Regions from separate parts of the Homo sapiens genome. Here region 2 is linked to region 1. A link means that fine-mapping ties the variant in region 1 to the expression of a gene that starts in the linked region. Tissue or cell type: lung. Region 1 holds a variant in brackets; the other region holds the start of a gene. All regions are shown on one strand. Distances are between the middles of the regions.

Region 1 (8,496 bases):
TCCTTATTTTTCTGCACTGACTGTAACACTGGTTTTCATGACACTGTCCATCAGTGTGTCTCGTTTTCCATGTTACGTTCTTGTCTATAAGACATCTTTTCTCTTCCTTAGTAGTAGGAAGAGAAACAAAACAAAACAAAACAAAACCCTTCTAGAACTCGATGGCATTATTCAGAAACTAGATCAAATGCTGTTCTTCTACAAGGCAAAATTCTGTAAGATCAATCCTTGCTCAAGATCTCTGCTCCAGCCCCAGAACCTGAACTTGAGTCTGCATGGGCTTTCCAGAAAAAAGCATCCAGAAGGAGAGAAGCTCCTATTTATGCTACCAACACTCCTCTCTAAGATATGTTTCTGTTGTTATCATTGTTAAGACGGAGTCTTGCTTTGTCCCCCAGGCTGGAGTGCAGCAGCGCGATCTCGGCTCACTGCAACCTCCATCTCTGGGGTTCAAGCGATTCTCCTGCCTCACCCTCCCACGTAGCTGAGATCACAGGCACACGCCACTATGCCCGGCTAATTTTTGTGTTTTTAGTAGAGACGAGGTTTCTCCGTGTTGGTCAGGCTGGTCTTGAACTCCTGACTGCAGGTGATCCACCTGCCTCGGTGTCCCAAAGTGCTGAGATTACAGGCGTCAGCCACTGCGCCCACCCATTTAAGATATCTTTTTGAACAAATTTATATTTTCAATTTCTGATCATATATGTCAGATGGAATACTTAACTCTACTATTAGGAATTATTTCCTCAAAAGGGCTTTAGCATTTCATTAGCTTTCACATTCTAGAATTCTATTAGATTGTTTTTCCGAATCAAAGGAACCTGCATGCTGGATGTGGGAGAGGGTAGGAGAACTGATCAGGCTCCTCCTCTGGAAACCTGAATCTCCGTACACTGAGACAAGTCTTGTTCCTCCTGCCTGCACTGCTCAGTAGAGGATTTGTGGCAGTTTACTCTCACTGCCCCACTAATTTTGAAATGCAGTGCTCTAAAGAGACACATAAAAGAAGAAAGGATCTGGTATTTTATCAATGAACAGGGCCGGCACTCTGTTTATGAAAAAATATTAGAATCATTCTTGGATGAGGTAAAATAAATCACAACTCTTTGAAGATTTGCAGAAGAGAGGTGAGGACAAGCTCCACTTAAGCTGCCAAGGCAGTGATGCGTGAATTCCCCTAGGAATTCCTAGGAAGATACTCAGCTGTGGTCAACATTCTTTTGGTCAATGCGTTAACCCATAATTGTTCATCACAATGAGATTCTGCATCTGAGCTGGGGCTCTTTCTGTGCTCAGGATATAATCGCAACCTCACCTCGGTTTTAGTCACTCTTGCTTCACCACTGTCCTGGACCCCAGGACAGGCCACTCCACTTGACATGGTTGATTTTTTTTTAATTGGGTTATGTAAAAAATTGCTTTACTCAATAATCTTTTATTATGTAGTGGTTTGCTTATAAATGCCCAATATAGATTCTCATCTTGGTGACCATGCCTGTGTGCCACTTTCTCTTGTATTTGATCATGGATTTCCTGGAATTTCCTTTTCTACGTTAAACCAGGGCATTTGCTTGACTGGAGAAGATCCCTAATAAGGGGACAATTCTGTGAGACACAAACACTCCTAGCAATTTTTTTCTCTAAGGAAAGCTGTCTTCAAAATGGGGCATCTGTTTCAGGAAACAGAAAAACATCACCCTGAGCTCTTCTTAGGGCAAAGGAAAACATCAATAATACGACTGTGATAGAAGTACTTTTTTTTGTATGACTTTTCCTCATTGTTTCAGAGACATGGAGTATTTTTAGTGGGTCCATAAAGAGGAAAAGCCTACAGGTTGGAACAAGCAAGCTTCTTCCTGAGAGACAATAACAGACTTTCAACCTGGCAAGACACCGGACTTTCAATCTGGCAAGGTGTCAGTAGACTCCCTTTCCAACAAGAAAGGGACCGTAGTCGGCAGGATTCGAACCTGCGTGGGGAAACCCCAATGGATTTCTAGTCCATCGCCTTAACCACTCGGCCACGACTACGTGAAGGACACTTTGTCCATTAGCATAAGTCACTGTACTGAACTTTAGCTCCCTTGGAAAGGTCAAATTTTCTGCCAAAAAGTGTATTCGCTGTCAATGTTTCTTATTTTTTGACATCAGTTAGATGACTATCATGCTGTTGTGGTAAACTGACAAGTAACACTTTATCCTCGGACCTAGGAGGACCCCTTATTCTGATGTTTTGATGGAAGGAGACTACGCGGGGAGGCATTCCCAGAGACCAAGCTTCCTGCTCCATCCGCTTCTGATGGTGTTCCAGGAAACACCCGCAACAATTGCGACAAGCTCTAACATTTGCTGCAGAATTTTGAGTTATAGCAATGATTTGAACAACCTCAAATGGCCATCGATGTTTGACTTTTAAAATAAATTTTGGAAGATCCATATAATGGAAGATTCTGCAATTGATAAAAGGAATGAGATGCACTTCTATTTACTGAAAGGAAATGCACTAGTATTTCAGTGGTAGCCCAGTAAGAGGCTACACTTAGTAAGAGGATACACTAGAAATCCACTTATTGTCAGTTTGAGAGCCTGGTATTGCCTCTAAGAAACTTCATCTTTTCCCCTTGACAACTCCCCCTTTGACCTCCAGTAAAGGACTCCCCCTGCATCTCAAATCAAAGGTAGATTTTTACTACCTTTTTTTTTTCTTTTTTAAGTCCCCACTTATTTAAATGCCCTTTGAATGCTTATCTGAGCTTCACTAACGATTCTGGGAAACAAAAAGTAGATTTACTCACTTAGTGTGGTTTCCAGGTAGAAGAAAGAGAGATGAGGAGTAAACTCAAGGTCTTAATTCCTTATTCTGTCAGTTTTGGTAAATCATCTCTTGAAGGAAATCTGTCCTAAATTGTCAAATCTATTTACAAAACATTGTTCATACTGTATTCTTAGTATATTCTTGATGTCTATATACTAAAATGTAATGTTATCCTATATTTATTCCTGGTATTAGTATTTTCTGTTTTCTCTTCGTTTTGTTGAACAATCCTTGATTTAGAACAATAGTTTTGTCAATCATCCCTAAATGCCTGTTTATGGCTTTGTTGATATTCTCTGTTTGTTTGTGTGTGTGTGTGTTCTATCTTTTTATAATCTTGTTTCTAACATTTTAATTTGCTCTTTTCCTCTAAATTATTGAGAAAAAAGCTTTAACATCAAATATTGAAACATCTTTATTCTAATATATGCAAGTAGAACTATAAATTAGACTTTGGGCACAGTTTAGCTGCATTACACAAATTTTTATATATCTTATTTTATCTTTCATTTTAACTAAATGTGATTTCTTTAAGCTATGGCTTTGGATGAGTGTTTTTTCATTTAGTAACATTTTGGGGTTTTCCATTTTATTTCTGATATTGATTTTATTTTTATTATGCTGGGCCCACAGAATATATTCTGTGTCATTTCAATCCTTGTACATTTTTAAAGACTTGCATTAGGGCCCACCAAGGGTATTTAAAAATAATATGTAAATCAACATAAAAAAATCAGTAGCATTTCTATATAAACATAATGACCTAACTGAAAAACAAATCAAGAAAACAATCTCACTTATGATAGCATCAAAAAATAAAATACTTAGGAATAAATTTGACCAAGGAGATGAAAGATTTTTACACTGAAAACTATAAAATGTTGAAAGAAATTAATGACAACATAAATAAATGGAAAGATATCCAATGTTCATGAATTAGAATAGTTAATAATGTTAAAATGTCCATGCCATCCAAAGCAATATACAAATTCAGTACAGTCCTTATCAAAATTCCAAAGGGACATTCTTCACAGAGGTAGAAAAAATAATCCTAAAATTCATATGGAATCACACACACACACACACACACACACACATGCACCAAATAGCCATAGCAATACTGAGAAAGAAAAACAAAGTTGGAGGCATCACACTTGTTGCTTTAAAATTATATTATAAAGCTAAAATAATCAAGACATATTGTTCTGATAGCAGCATAATCATTCCTGAATAGAAACAGAAACAGACCAATGCAACAGAATAGACAGCCCAGAAAAAAACTCAAACATATACTGCCAACTAATTTTTGATAAGGGCATCAAGAGGACACAATGGGGGAAAGAATAATCTCCAGCCGCCCCGTCCGGGAGGGAGGTCGGGGGCAGCCCCCGGCCGGCTAACCGCCCCGTCCGGGAGGTGGGGGGGGGGCCCCGCCCGGCCACCGCCCCGTCTGGCAGGTGGGGGGCGCCTCTGCCCGGCCGCCCCGTCTGGGAAGTGAGGAGCTCCTCT[G/T]CCCGGCCGCCACCCCGTCTGGGAGGTGTACCCAACAGCTCATTGAGAACGGGCCATGATGACGATGGCGGTTTTGTCGAATAGAAAAGGGGGAAATGTGGGGAAAAGAAAGAGAGATCGGATTGTTACTGTGTCTGTGTGGAAAGAAGTAGACAGGGGAGACTCCATTTTGTTCTGTACTAAGAAAAATTCTTCTGCCTTGGGATGCTGTTAATCTATAACCTTACCCCCAACCCCGTGCTCTCTGAAACATGTGCTGTGTCCACTCAGGGTTAAATGGATTAAGGGCGGTGCAAGATGTGCTTTGTTAAACAGATGCTTGAAGGCAGCATGCTCGTTAGGAGTCATCACCACTCCCTAATCTCAAGTACCCAGGGACACAAACACGGCGGAAGGCCGCAGGGTCCTCTGCCTAGGAAAACCAGAGACCCTTGTTCACATGTTTATCTGCTGACCTTCCCTCCGCTATTGTCCTATGACCCTGCCAAATCCCCCTCTCCGAGAAACACCCAAGAATGATCAATAAATACTATTAAAAAAAAAATTAAAAAAAAGACATAGAGAATTAAAAAAAAAAAAGAAGAAGAATCTCCAATAAATGATGCTTGGAAAACTGGATTTCCACATGCAAAATAATGAAATTAGACTCTTATACCATACACAAAAATCAACTCAAAATGGATAAAACACCTAAATGTAAGACCTGAACACAAAACTTCCATAAGAAAACAGGGGGAAAGCTCTTCGTCATTGGCCTTGGCAATAATTTTTTTGGATATCATGCCAAATGTCCAGGATACACAACAAAAATAAATAAATGGGACCACACCAAACTACAAAGTTTCTGCACAGCAAAGAAAACAATCAACAAAATAAAAAGGCAACTTACAGACTGGGGAAAAGGAGTTAATATTCAAAATTTATAAAGAACACTTATAACTCCATAGCAGAAAAACAAATAACCTGATTAAAAAATGGTCAAAGAGACTTACCTTCTGAGCACAGCTGGCAGCACTACAGTCTCATGAAAAATGTGCAAAGGATCTGAACAATTTCTTCAAAGAAGACATAAAAGGGCCAATATGCATATGAAAATGTGCTCAACAACATTAATCATCAGGAAAATGCAATATTAAACCACTATAAGATATAACTTTACACCTGTTAGGATGGCTATTATCAAAAAGACAAGAGACAACAAATGTTGGCAAGGGTGTGGAGAAAAGAGAACCCTAGTACACTGTTGGTGAGAATGTAGATTTGTGCAGTCATTATGGAAAACAGCATGGATGTTTCTAAAGAAATTAAACATAGAACTACCATATGACCCAGCAATTCCTCTCCTGGATATAAACCCAAAGGAGATACAATTACTACCTCGTAAAAGACATCTGTACTCCCACATTCACTGAAGCACTATTCATAATAGCCAAGATATGGAAACAAACTATGTTTGTCAATAGATTAATGGATAAAGAATCTGTGTGTGTGTGTGTGTGTGTGTGTGTGTGTGTGTGTGTGTGTGTGTGTGTGTGTATAATATTACTCAGCCTTAAAAAAGGAGATTCTACCATTTGCCACAACATGGATGACCCTGGAAGATATTATGCTCAATGAAATAAGCCAGACATAGAAAGAAAAATACTATGAGATCTTACTTATATGTGGATATATATTTAAAAAAAAAAAAAGGTCAAACATACAGAGAGAATAAAAAATTGGTTGCCAGGGGTAGCTGAGGAGAAAAGAAATAGGGTAATGTAGGTTAAAGGATACGAAGTAGCAGATATGTAGCATGAACAAGTCTAGAGAGCTAATGTACAACATGGAGACTCTAGTGAATTGAATTGTATTATATTAGGGATTTTTGTTAAATGAGTAGAGTTTAGATGTTTTGTCCAAAAAAAATGTAACTATGTGAGATGATACATGTTAATTTGCCTCATTGGAACAATCATTTTACTATCTACATATATTTCATAGCATCATGTTGTAAGCATCAAATATACACAATACAATATCTTTTAATAAATAAATAATATATATTTTTAGTTGAGTGTAGTGTTCTATATTTGTCATTTAGGTAAATAGATTTGTTTAAATAATCTTTATCTATACTGAAATATCATTAAATGTGTATTGTAAAATTTCTGTGGCCATGGAGGTGCGCTGCTCAGATCTTCCTTCAAGGAAGAACTTGTTTTCAGTTGCAAGAAATGCTGTCAGCTGACAGCCTCCAAGGCACTTTTACCATCTTCAGCTACAGCACTTTTACCGTCTTCTACAGTGTTCAAACTGAGGTTGTTTTCTTCTTGGTGAGCAGAGTGGGTGTACGCTAAAGCCTGGCCATTTCCGCTTGACTGGGGTCTTATCTATGAGCAATTTCTATACCAAAGCTGGACGAGACTTTCTCAGAGCTGTGCCAAAACCTCAGGGTTTTTCTACCCAATCCTACTTTCTTCCTTCTCTAATTTTGCCCATGCCAGACCCACATCATGGTCTGAAATCTCTTACTGCATTCATCTTTCCTTCTCCTCTTTGTTTATTGTTATGGGCATTATTGTCAATAACCCCTTGCACTTGTAATGCATCTTAGTGTTTGCTTTCCAGCGATCCCAAACTTTCACAGCTGGTATCAGAAGAGGTCTGTGAAAGCAGATGGTAAAATGTGATTTGACAACTATATTACTCACTGCCAAGCTGGCAAGGAGGACCCCAGCTTGAGTGGTATGAGTGCTCAAGGAGTCTCTGAAACAAAGTGACATATAATTGCTAAAAATTTCTGGTTTTTATATGAGTTCTTGAGATAGATGTTTTAAAAATCTCTATGGTGCGGATGACGTTGTAAAATGTTTGTGTGATGATTCATGTGTTTTTAAGTTGAAAACATGGGTGACAAGCCATACAATAATGATTATCTGGCTATGTAAGCAGAGGGGGCTTAACCTACAGAGCTGTGAAGATAGTTAATACAGCATAGTGTCCCTAAGGGTAGAAAAGGCAGGCCGGGCAGGGTGGCTCACACCTGTAATCCTAGCACTATGAGAGGCCGAGGCGGGTGGATCACGAGGTCAGGAGTTCAAGACCAGCCTGACCAACATGGTGAAACCCTGTCTCTACTAAAAATACTAAAATTAGCCGGGCGTGGTGTCCTGCACCTGTAATCCCAGCTACTCAGGAGGCTGAGGCAGGAGAATCACTTGAACCTGGGAGGGGGAGGTTGCAGTGAGCCGAGATCGTACCACTGCACTCCAGCCTGGGTGACAGAGCGAGTCTCTGTCTAAAAAAAAAAAAAGAAAAGAAAAGGCAGTGAATGTTTGTGCTGCATAATACACAAAATCAAAATAAGCAAGGGCAAATGAACAGGAGGCTGAGAACACTTCCCTAATATAAAATAATCTTTTAGGCCGGGCGCGGTGGCTCACGCCTGTAATCCCAGCACTTTGAGAGGCCGAGACGGGCGGATCACGAGGTCAGGAGATCGAGATCATCCTGGCTAGCACGGTGAAATCCCGTCTCTACTAAAAACACAAAAAAATTAGCCGAGCGTGTTGGTGGGCGCCTGTAGTCCAGTTACTTGGGAGGCTGAGGCAGGAGAATGGCGTGAAGCCGGGAGGCGGAGCTTGCAGTGAGCCGAGATCGCACCACTGCACTCCAGCCTGGGCTACAGAGCGAGACTCCATCTCAAAATAATAAGAATAAGAATAAGAATAAGAATAAGAAAGAATAAGTCTTTCCGGGCGCAGTGGCTCACGCCTGTAATCCCAGCACTTTGGGAGGCCGAGGCAGGCGGATCACCTGAGGTCAGGAGTTTGAGGCTAACCTGATCAACATGAAGAAACCCTGTCTCTACTAAAAATACAAAATTAGGCCGGCGTGGTGGCATATGCCTGTAATCCCAGCTACTCGGGAGGCTGAGACAGGAGAATCGCTTCAACCCAGGAGGCGGAGGTTGCGGTGAGCTGAGATCATGCCATTGCACTCCAGCCTGAGCAACAAGAGCGAAACTCCGTCTCAAACTAATAATAATAATAATAATAATAATTATAATAATAATAATAATCTTTTAATGAGTTATTGGACCAAAGCCTGACTCCCCTTTTTTTTTTTTTTTTTTTTTTGAGACACTGTCTCGCTCCGTTGCCCAGGTTGGAGTGCAGTGGCGCGATCTT
Region 2 (8,000 bases), 810 kb before region 1:
GGATTCTACACTTGCAGTTTCTTCAAATGCCCTGGCCTGGAATGATACCTAGCAATGTGTTTACATGGTTCATATGCCTGCAAAATTTGAGGGGAAAAAATGGATATTTTAGCAACAGGTGTTTAAACCACTGTTTGTTTCCATTTCTGACTCCCCATCTCTTATTTTTCTCTTGTTGAGTGGCACTGAAATAACAATAGAGAATTTTAGCATCTGGTAAGGGGACACTATCTTAGAAATAAGTCATTTTAACTACAATTTGAAAAGATATTTTGGCATGATTTAAGCAATAAATGCTAAATTACAAAATTAAATAATTTATTAAAGAACTGAGAGCAAATTTAAATTTAAAAATTAATGGAGGCTAGGCGTGGTGGCTCATGCCTGTAATCCCAGCACATTGGAAGGCCAAGGTGGGCAGATCACCTGAGGTCAGGAGTTTGAGACCAGCCTGGCCAACACGGCGAAACCCCGTCTCTACTAAAAATACAAAATTTGCCAGGCGTGGTGGCACATGCCTGTAATCCCAGATACTCGAGGTATGAGAATCGCTTGAACCTGGGAGGCAGAAGTTGCAGTGAGCTGAGATCGAGCCACTGCACTCCATCCTGGGAAATAGAGCATGACTCCTTCCCCACTCCCCTGCCAAAAAAAATTAATGGAATGTGAGAAACAAAAGAAATAAAGATAATAAAATCAATGGAAATTATTCTGACATCAGGAAGCAAATTATAACAAAAGAAACAATGTCAAATTATATAAAATCAGCAACTCATTAAGAAAAAAAGCTAAACTTTGAATACAGTAAAAAAATATGCTCTTGGATTAATTCTCTAGTGAAGAAAAGTGAATCACTGAACACATTGAAAAGAGATTTAAATTTCTTGCACATTTTACATAAAATACTGATATTGACAAAGACATCATAATATGCCATTGACAATGAGGACATCTAAGACCAACTAGTTAATGTGTCATCAACACAGAGATTCTCAGATTAGTCCCCACATAAAAAAATTTGAATGTCCTGAAATCTTGTAGCTCATAATTGAAAGAAACTTGATAGAAGTTTACTCAAATGTCAACAATTTTAAAAAGCTTTTGATCAACCATGCTAGAGGAATGGCTACATTAACTTTTTATTCTTTCTAGAAAAATTTAAATTATGAAATTAACATACAAAGAAGCAGTCCAAGAACATAAAGCCAACAAATTAGGGGAGAGTTACTATAGAGGAGTCAGGCAGTTAAATAATAAAAATATTTTGTTATTTTTCTGATTTTTGTTTGTGATATTTGGAAGACTTTAAAATTTGTAGTATAGCTGGATGTGGTGGCAGCAGCTCACACCTTTAATCCCAGCATTTTGGGAGGCAGAAGCAAGAGGATTGCTTGAGCACAGGAGTTTAAGGTTGCAGTGATCACACCACTCCACCCCAGCTTAGTTGACAGAACGAGACCCTGTTCTGTCTCGTTTTGTAATTGTAATTATCATTACAATTACAAAAAAAATTGTAATGTGATGTAAAGAATGTATTTTCCATTCTATATTTATTTATTTATTTTTCGAGATGGGATCTCACTCTGTCAGCCACGCTGGAGTGCAGTGGCACAATCTCAGCTCACTGAAAACCCCACCTTCCAGGCTCAAGCAATCCTCCCACCTCAGACCCACAGGCATGTGCCACAATGCCTGGCTAATTTTTGTATTTTGGGTAGAGATGGGGTTTCACCACGTTGCCCAGGCTGGTCTTGAACTCCTGAGCTCATGCAATCTGCCTGCCTCAGCCTCCCAATGTGCTAGGATTATAGGCGTGAACCACCACGCCTGGCCTATTTTCCATTCTAAATCTCCATTTTTGTTTTTTTTCTTTTTCCTTCTTTATTTATTTATTTATTTAATTTTGGAGACAGGGTCTCAGTCTGTCACTCAAGCTAGAGTGCAGTGGCACGATCATGGCTACTGCAGCTGGTGATTATCCCTGCTCAGCCTCCCCAGTAGCTGAGACTAATAGCATGAGTAACTGTGCCTGGATAATATTTTTTATTTTTTGCAGAGACAGAGTCTCACTATGTCGCCCAGGCTTGTCTTGAACTCCTGGACTCAAGAGATCCTCCCATCTCGGCCTCTCAAAGTGTTGGGATTACAGGCGTGAGCTATTACACCTGACTTAAGTCTCCATTTTCATATCTATGTTTGTACTTGTAATTTTGTATTCCTTTTCTCAAATAAGGTCTCTTGAATTGTATAAGCTGGGTCTCTTTCTGTCTGTATTCCTTGTTACATTATAAACCCCATGAGGATGAGGACCTTGTGTCCTTCATTATTATTATATCCAGCAAGCCCTTGGCACAAAGATCGCATTCAATGGGAATCTATATAATTAATGAATGAGTTGTAAAAAATCAATTCAACCTCTTAACATGTATTATCTGTCTTCTCTATTTCTATTGCTACTGCCTTGATTCAGGCCCTCACTCTCTCTACCCTGGATTCTTGTAGTAGTCTCCTAGCTGGTCTCCCTGCCTGTAGTCTCATTTCCTTACAGTCCATCCCCACATGGCTGCCAAGATAACATTTCTAGATGTAAATTTGATCAGACTGCTCAAATTCCTTGGTTAGGGATCCAAAAAAAGTAAGAGCTGGTGCCCCTGCCACATATACCACTCTCCAGTCATGCTGATCAGCCCAGTTCTTTGGATGTACCAAAGGATTTCACCCCAGTTCTGCTTTTGTACATTTGATTCCCTCTCCCAGAAATTTATTTCCTTTGCTCCTTTTCCAGTGTACACTGGCAGATTCCTGCTGAGTCTTGTTTTGCCCCATTAGTTTTCCTCTCTCTTCCACGCCACGAATTCAAACTAATACATACATTTATTTCCTACATACGTACTTAGCATGTTCCAGAGGCTATTCTCATCGATTTACAAGCACTTATTTTATTTTACTTCATTTCACATGCACGTCTGTTTTACGCAGTTACTTGTTTACACGCTCTTCTTCTAGACTTTGGGATTCCAGAAGACAGAGGTTTGAGTGTAAAACACAAAATAACAAAACCACAACAAAAACAACTCTGTATTCTCGTCCCCACCATTACCATCTCTCCTTTGTGATGTCAAAGAGACCAGAGGAAGTGGACAGACTCGGGGAAGAATAGGTAAGTATTAGAGACAGAAAAAGTATGAAGTCCCTTCTGTGAGGACTAACAATAGTGATGCCATTTTACAACCTTGATGACTGTGTTCTCAAGAAACAAAGCAAATGTCAACCCCGTCCATAGCTTCAACAGAGCATAACAGCTCTAACCGCAACAGAGCCTAACGGCCCTAACCACATCTGTCCCCAGTTGGAAAGTGTCCAAACAGTTCCAACTAGCCAGCACTTCCCCAACCCCTCCCCAACAGAAACTTTATTATAAAAGCCTCAGCTTGTAAGCGATCAGGATCTCAGCCAGATTCCTAACTGGAACTCTTCGCAGGCTTTTCCTGTAAATAAACCTGTTTGGCCGTGGAATTGCCTCCTGTTACTCGCTCTCTACGTTTATATCTTCCTAACACCTTCCGGCTCTAATGTTTTGGGTCTCGATGACCATCTAACTCCTAAATGCTGGGGGCCGCTCCCCATAGAAATGCCTCGCCGGATTTCTCCGCCTCGCACCCAGTGGGACTGGGATTTTTGGCCCCGGGGTTTGCAATAAGGGAGTCACCAAGCAGCAGCCACCTCTGGAATTCCTAGAAAGGAAAGAGTTGCCTGGCTTCAGCCAGTGGGCTCAGAACGGCTGACGCATTTCCGGCCTTTGCGGTTGATCGGTCATTGGGGTGCTGCAGCCCCGCCACCTGTTCCGTAGCTTGCCGGTGCCCCGAAGGTGAGTCTTGGCCCCTTGTCGCGACCCGCCAGGTTCCCAGAAGATTTCAGGTCTGTGCCTTGGAGTAGGCGGGGAGGGAACGTCTGCGCAGGCGTGACCCCCGCCCCTACACATTCACTGGCCTGAAGCCCCCGTGGAGTAGGTGGAGGTCCCGCCCCTTATCCTGAAGATTAAACAGCCTTTCTTTGTCTGAGATAACGCCCGGAGTTCTTTGTCCTGCCTCCAAGACGATAAAGGAGCGCAGACACAAAGGTGAGGTTAGAGCGAAAGTTTAATAAGCGAAAGGAAAAAGCTCTCTGCCAGCAGAGAAGGGGTCCCGACCGGGAGTACCCATTATGGGGCCCGTTCTGGGGTTTTTATGGACTGGAAAGGAGAGGGAATGCGCTTAGTCTGCGGGCTGTCCTGGCGAACGCTTGACTCAGCTTGGTCCGGGACCAATCAGGAGCTGAAATGATGATTCATAGCTGCTGCTTAGCTTGGCCCAGGACCTATCAGAAGCCGAAGTGAAAGTTTGGCCCCGGACCAATCAGGGGCTGAGGTGATGATTCACAGAAGCTGGGCTTATAGTCCTAATAAAGGAAAGTAGAGCGCCTGCCGGAACCTACCAGAACCCACCGTGTCCATACCCACAAAAGGAGAAGAAACTTTTCCTGGGAACCTGCTGACTATACAAAGGACAAAGGCATTATGTGTCAGGCCTTGTTCCCTTATCTGAGTGAGCTGGAGGTTCTGTGCAAGTTTTTATCCAAATGGGCCCGAGGTTTTTCTATCTATGCAGCCGTGGGCATATCTCTAGGCACAACACCCTGTGCTAGTTCCCTTATCGGTGCCTGCAACCTGATTTTTTCCCCAGGCTTAGTTTTATGTTATGTGGGGATAAGACACTAAATCATGGGCGGGGGCAGGCTCTCCAGGGACCCTTCCCTTGCTATCCACCTAAGGCAAGCTAGGTAGCCCTTTCACAGGGTGGTGGGAGAGACCCCTAGAGAGGTCGGAGCTTTGCGGCGAAACCGAGGTCCAGAGGTAGAGAAGGGTCTCTCCCTGTCAAAAGCCTTATTTCCTATATACACGTAATTTTTATTTAATAAGTCAACATTATGCAATGTTTGTCGCATATGTTTTCTTTAAATATTGTAAAAACCACCAACCTCATAACTTGTCACCTCTAGTTTCTAATGCATCTCTAAAAATTGGGGACATTTCCCTACATAACCACAAGATTATTAGCACACCCAACTAAGTGTAGGCGCTTCACCTAACACCTAGTTCATGTTTAAATCCTTCCACCCCCTGTTGTCCCACAGATGTCTTTTATACCTGTTTGTACCAACTAGGATCCAATCATAGACCACTCACTGCATGTAGTTGAGTCTTAACCTAGGGCAATTTTACTCTTTGCCTCCCTTCCTCCCATCCCATTGCCTTGTTTAAAAGGAGGCTCTTCCAGTCTTCCTGTAGTGCATCCCCATTTCTGGATTTGACTGTTTCCTCATGGTATTTAAGGTCTTCTTCTGTTTTCTTGTCATCGTAATTGGTATCCTTTGGGATTTATTTTACAACACACATGATTTGTGATTTACATGATCTCTTTGTTGCTGTTGTTAATTATGCTGACGTGAATGAAAACATTCTCATGAATGAAAACATTCTCTTTTATGCTCTTTCTGCCATGTTTTTATTTCGGTGAAGGACAGTGGGGACACATCAAATTCTGCATTGTTTCACTCTTTGCTGTCTGACACCTCGTAAACACTTAGTAAATATATGTGAAATGAATTCCTTTGTGGATTACAGGCAATGCATAAAAACTTAATCTTGTATTTAGGATGAGCTCTTCCACTTCCTCCAGGGGTATACCTTGTATACATTTTTTAAATTATGGCTTTTATTTTATTGTATTGTAACTATATCCTCATGAGCTATAAACACCTCTATATTCCAAGCTCTTAGCTCAGCTCCATAAATTGATTGTCCAGTGACTGAACTGCTTTTACAAAGGTTAAGCTCTTTCTCCTTTCACTTGTACAGTAACATCTAAACTAAGTGGAAGTCTTTCTAGATTCAGTGCAATAGTCTTCACCCCCTCCACTTTACCCTTTTTTTTAACTCTTGCCTCTTCTGCTTCTACTCTTGCTTTCTGCTTCCACTTTTGCCTCTACCCTCATTCCCTCAGCTCATTCTCCATCCAGTAGCAGAGCTTCTCGGTACAGAATTCAGCCTTGTCACTCCCTTTCTTAAAGCCTTCAGTGGTTTCTCATTGCATTTATAAAATCCTAACTCCTATGCCCTACATGATCTGACTCCTGCTTGGCTTGCCAGCCTAATATTTTGCCACTCTTCTCCCACATGACTGTAGACACTCCAGCCTCCTTTCCTGTCTTTGATGGCAGCATGCACTTCCTCAGGGCCTTTGGATAGTCCAGAGTGCTCTTCCCCTCCCTCATCCCTATTCTGTATGGCTCACTTCTTTTGCACTTAAGGGCTTGGCTTAAATGTTACCTCACTTCCCACTACCCCATCTAAATAGGCTGTCCATTTATTTGGTAACTCAGTGCCTAGTTTATTATCCTCAGTAATCATCACAACTCATAATTATTTTATTTGCCTCCTTACTTATTTTTGTTGTTGCTTTTATTTTTGGTTTGTCTTCCCCGTTAAAATGTTTGCTCCAGCAAAACAGGGCCTGGTCCCGTCTTTTTCACCATTGTAGCCCTAATGCCCAGCCAAGTACCTGGTATGTTATGAGTGCTCAATGAACATTTATTGACTAAATGAGCAAATAAATAGGTTAGTTACTAGTAATGAGTCTCTCCTTGTCCCTTGCCTCCTGGGCCTTAGTTGCTGATAAAGTCATAAGCTGAGTCAGCAGTCAACTACCTTTTATTTTTCTGTCTCCCTTTCATGAGTGTGGAAGTCCACTGCAGGTCCTGGAATGAAACAGTGAGCCTGGTTCCCTACAACCTGAGACACACCACATTTAATCCCCCAGGAGTTGAATTCTAGGATGTCTTTGACTGTTTCTGCAGTCAAGTCATCAACTCCACTAACTACTCTGTGTTTGTGTTTCTGGTCCACTGAGATTTTTGTCTTGTATTTGTAGCTGGCCATGTCTTTCTCTTTATCCCCTTTTATATATCATCTCCCAATGCCAAATGTTTGGAGTCAATTTGGTAATTAATCATAAATTGGCCTGTTTCATATCACCCTGGAAATCTAAATCCAATCTTTAATGTTGCTTTTGAGCTGTTGTTGGGATGTTCAGGGGGACACCCCTGGTGGTATCTAGAGATGGGCTTCAGTACACAAATGGGAGGTCACCACTGGTCACAGTCTGTCCTGGATTTTCTTGAATATTTCTTCTAGTATTTTCAACTGTCTACTGACTATTAACATATGAAGTCAATATTTTATTTTGTTGGGTCTATTTCCTCTATGAAATGAAGATATTCAATTTACTAATACTACTTTACTAATAATACCTGCTCATTGATATTTATGTAATGATTGCTATGGGCCAGGTACTGCGCTAAGCTTTTTATATGCGTTACCTTGTATAATCATAACACCTATAAGAGGAGTACTATGGTCATTAACACTTAGAGAGGCCACAGGATTTGAACGTTATTCACTGTACTGCAGTGCTTCAGTAAAGATCATTTTAAATAGTTTATTCCATTTAATTTGTCAGATGTCTATCAAGTATTTGTTCCCTGCTAGGATATCAGATGACACCAAATTTGCATTTAATCGAATAAATCAGGTAAACAAAACATTGAAGATGCGTTCATAATTTTGTGGTAAGTCCAGACTTCTAAGTCTTCTAGGCATTTTAAAAATAAGAAGTGTCTGTAATCTGTAGCAGTTTGGGAGAGGAGATAGGAAGAGATGGGAGGACTGGCTGGGAACACAGGGTAATGCATATACATCCTGGGAACAGGGGTGGTTTGGGGGACAAGAAGAAAGAGTGTATTTTCCCTTCTGTGTTCCTTTCCCTGTCCTTACCATGGCTTGATGAAGTGAAAGGGGATATAGGAGGGGAGAATATATTTATTTGCCCAGAAAACATTTATGGAGCACTGACAGTGGGCCAGGCACTGTGCTATGCATTAAGGATAAAGACAGTTCATGGTGG

The links. PIP is the estimated chance that this variant, and not a neighbour inherited with it, causes the effect.
Region 2: ZSCAN31 starts here. The variant in region 1 is fine-mapped to the expression of ZSCAN31 in lung (TOPMed, PIP above 0.99). The same link has a PIP of 0.9 or more in prefrontal cortex.

Annotation. Positions count from the first base shown.
Region 1 is chr6:27,525,743-27,534,238 of GRCh38, reverse strand. It overlaps TRS-AGA3-1 (tRNA-Ser (anticodon AGA) 3-1), which reads right to left and starts at 2,031; the gene lies at 1,950-2,031. The variant G/T (reference allele first, on the strand shown) is at 4,325.
Region 2 is chr6:28,331,950-28,339,949 of GRCh38, reverse strand. ZSCAN31 (zinc finger and SCAN domain containing 31) reads left to right here and starts at 3,802. Exons shown (of 4, transcript NM_030899.5): 1 at 3,802-3,868. RefSeq lists an enhancer at 4,137-4,256.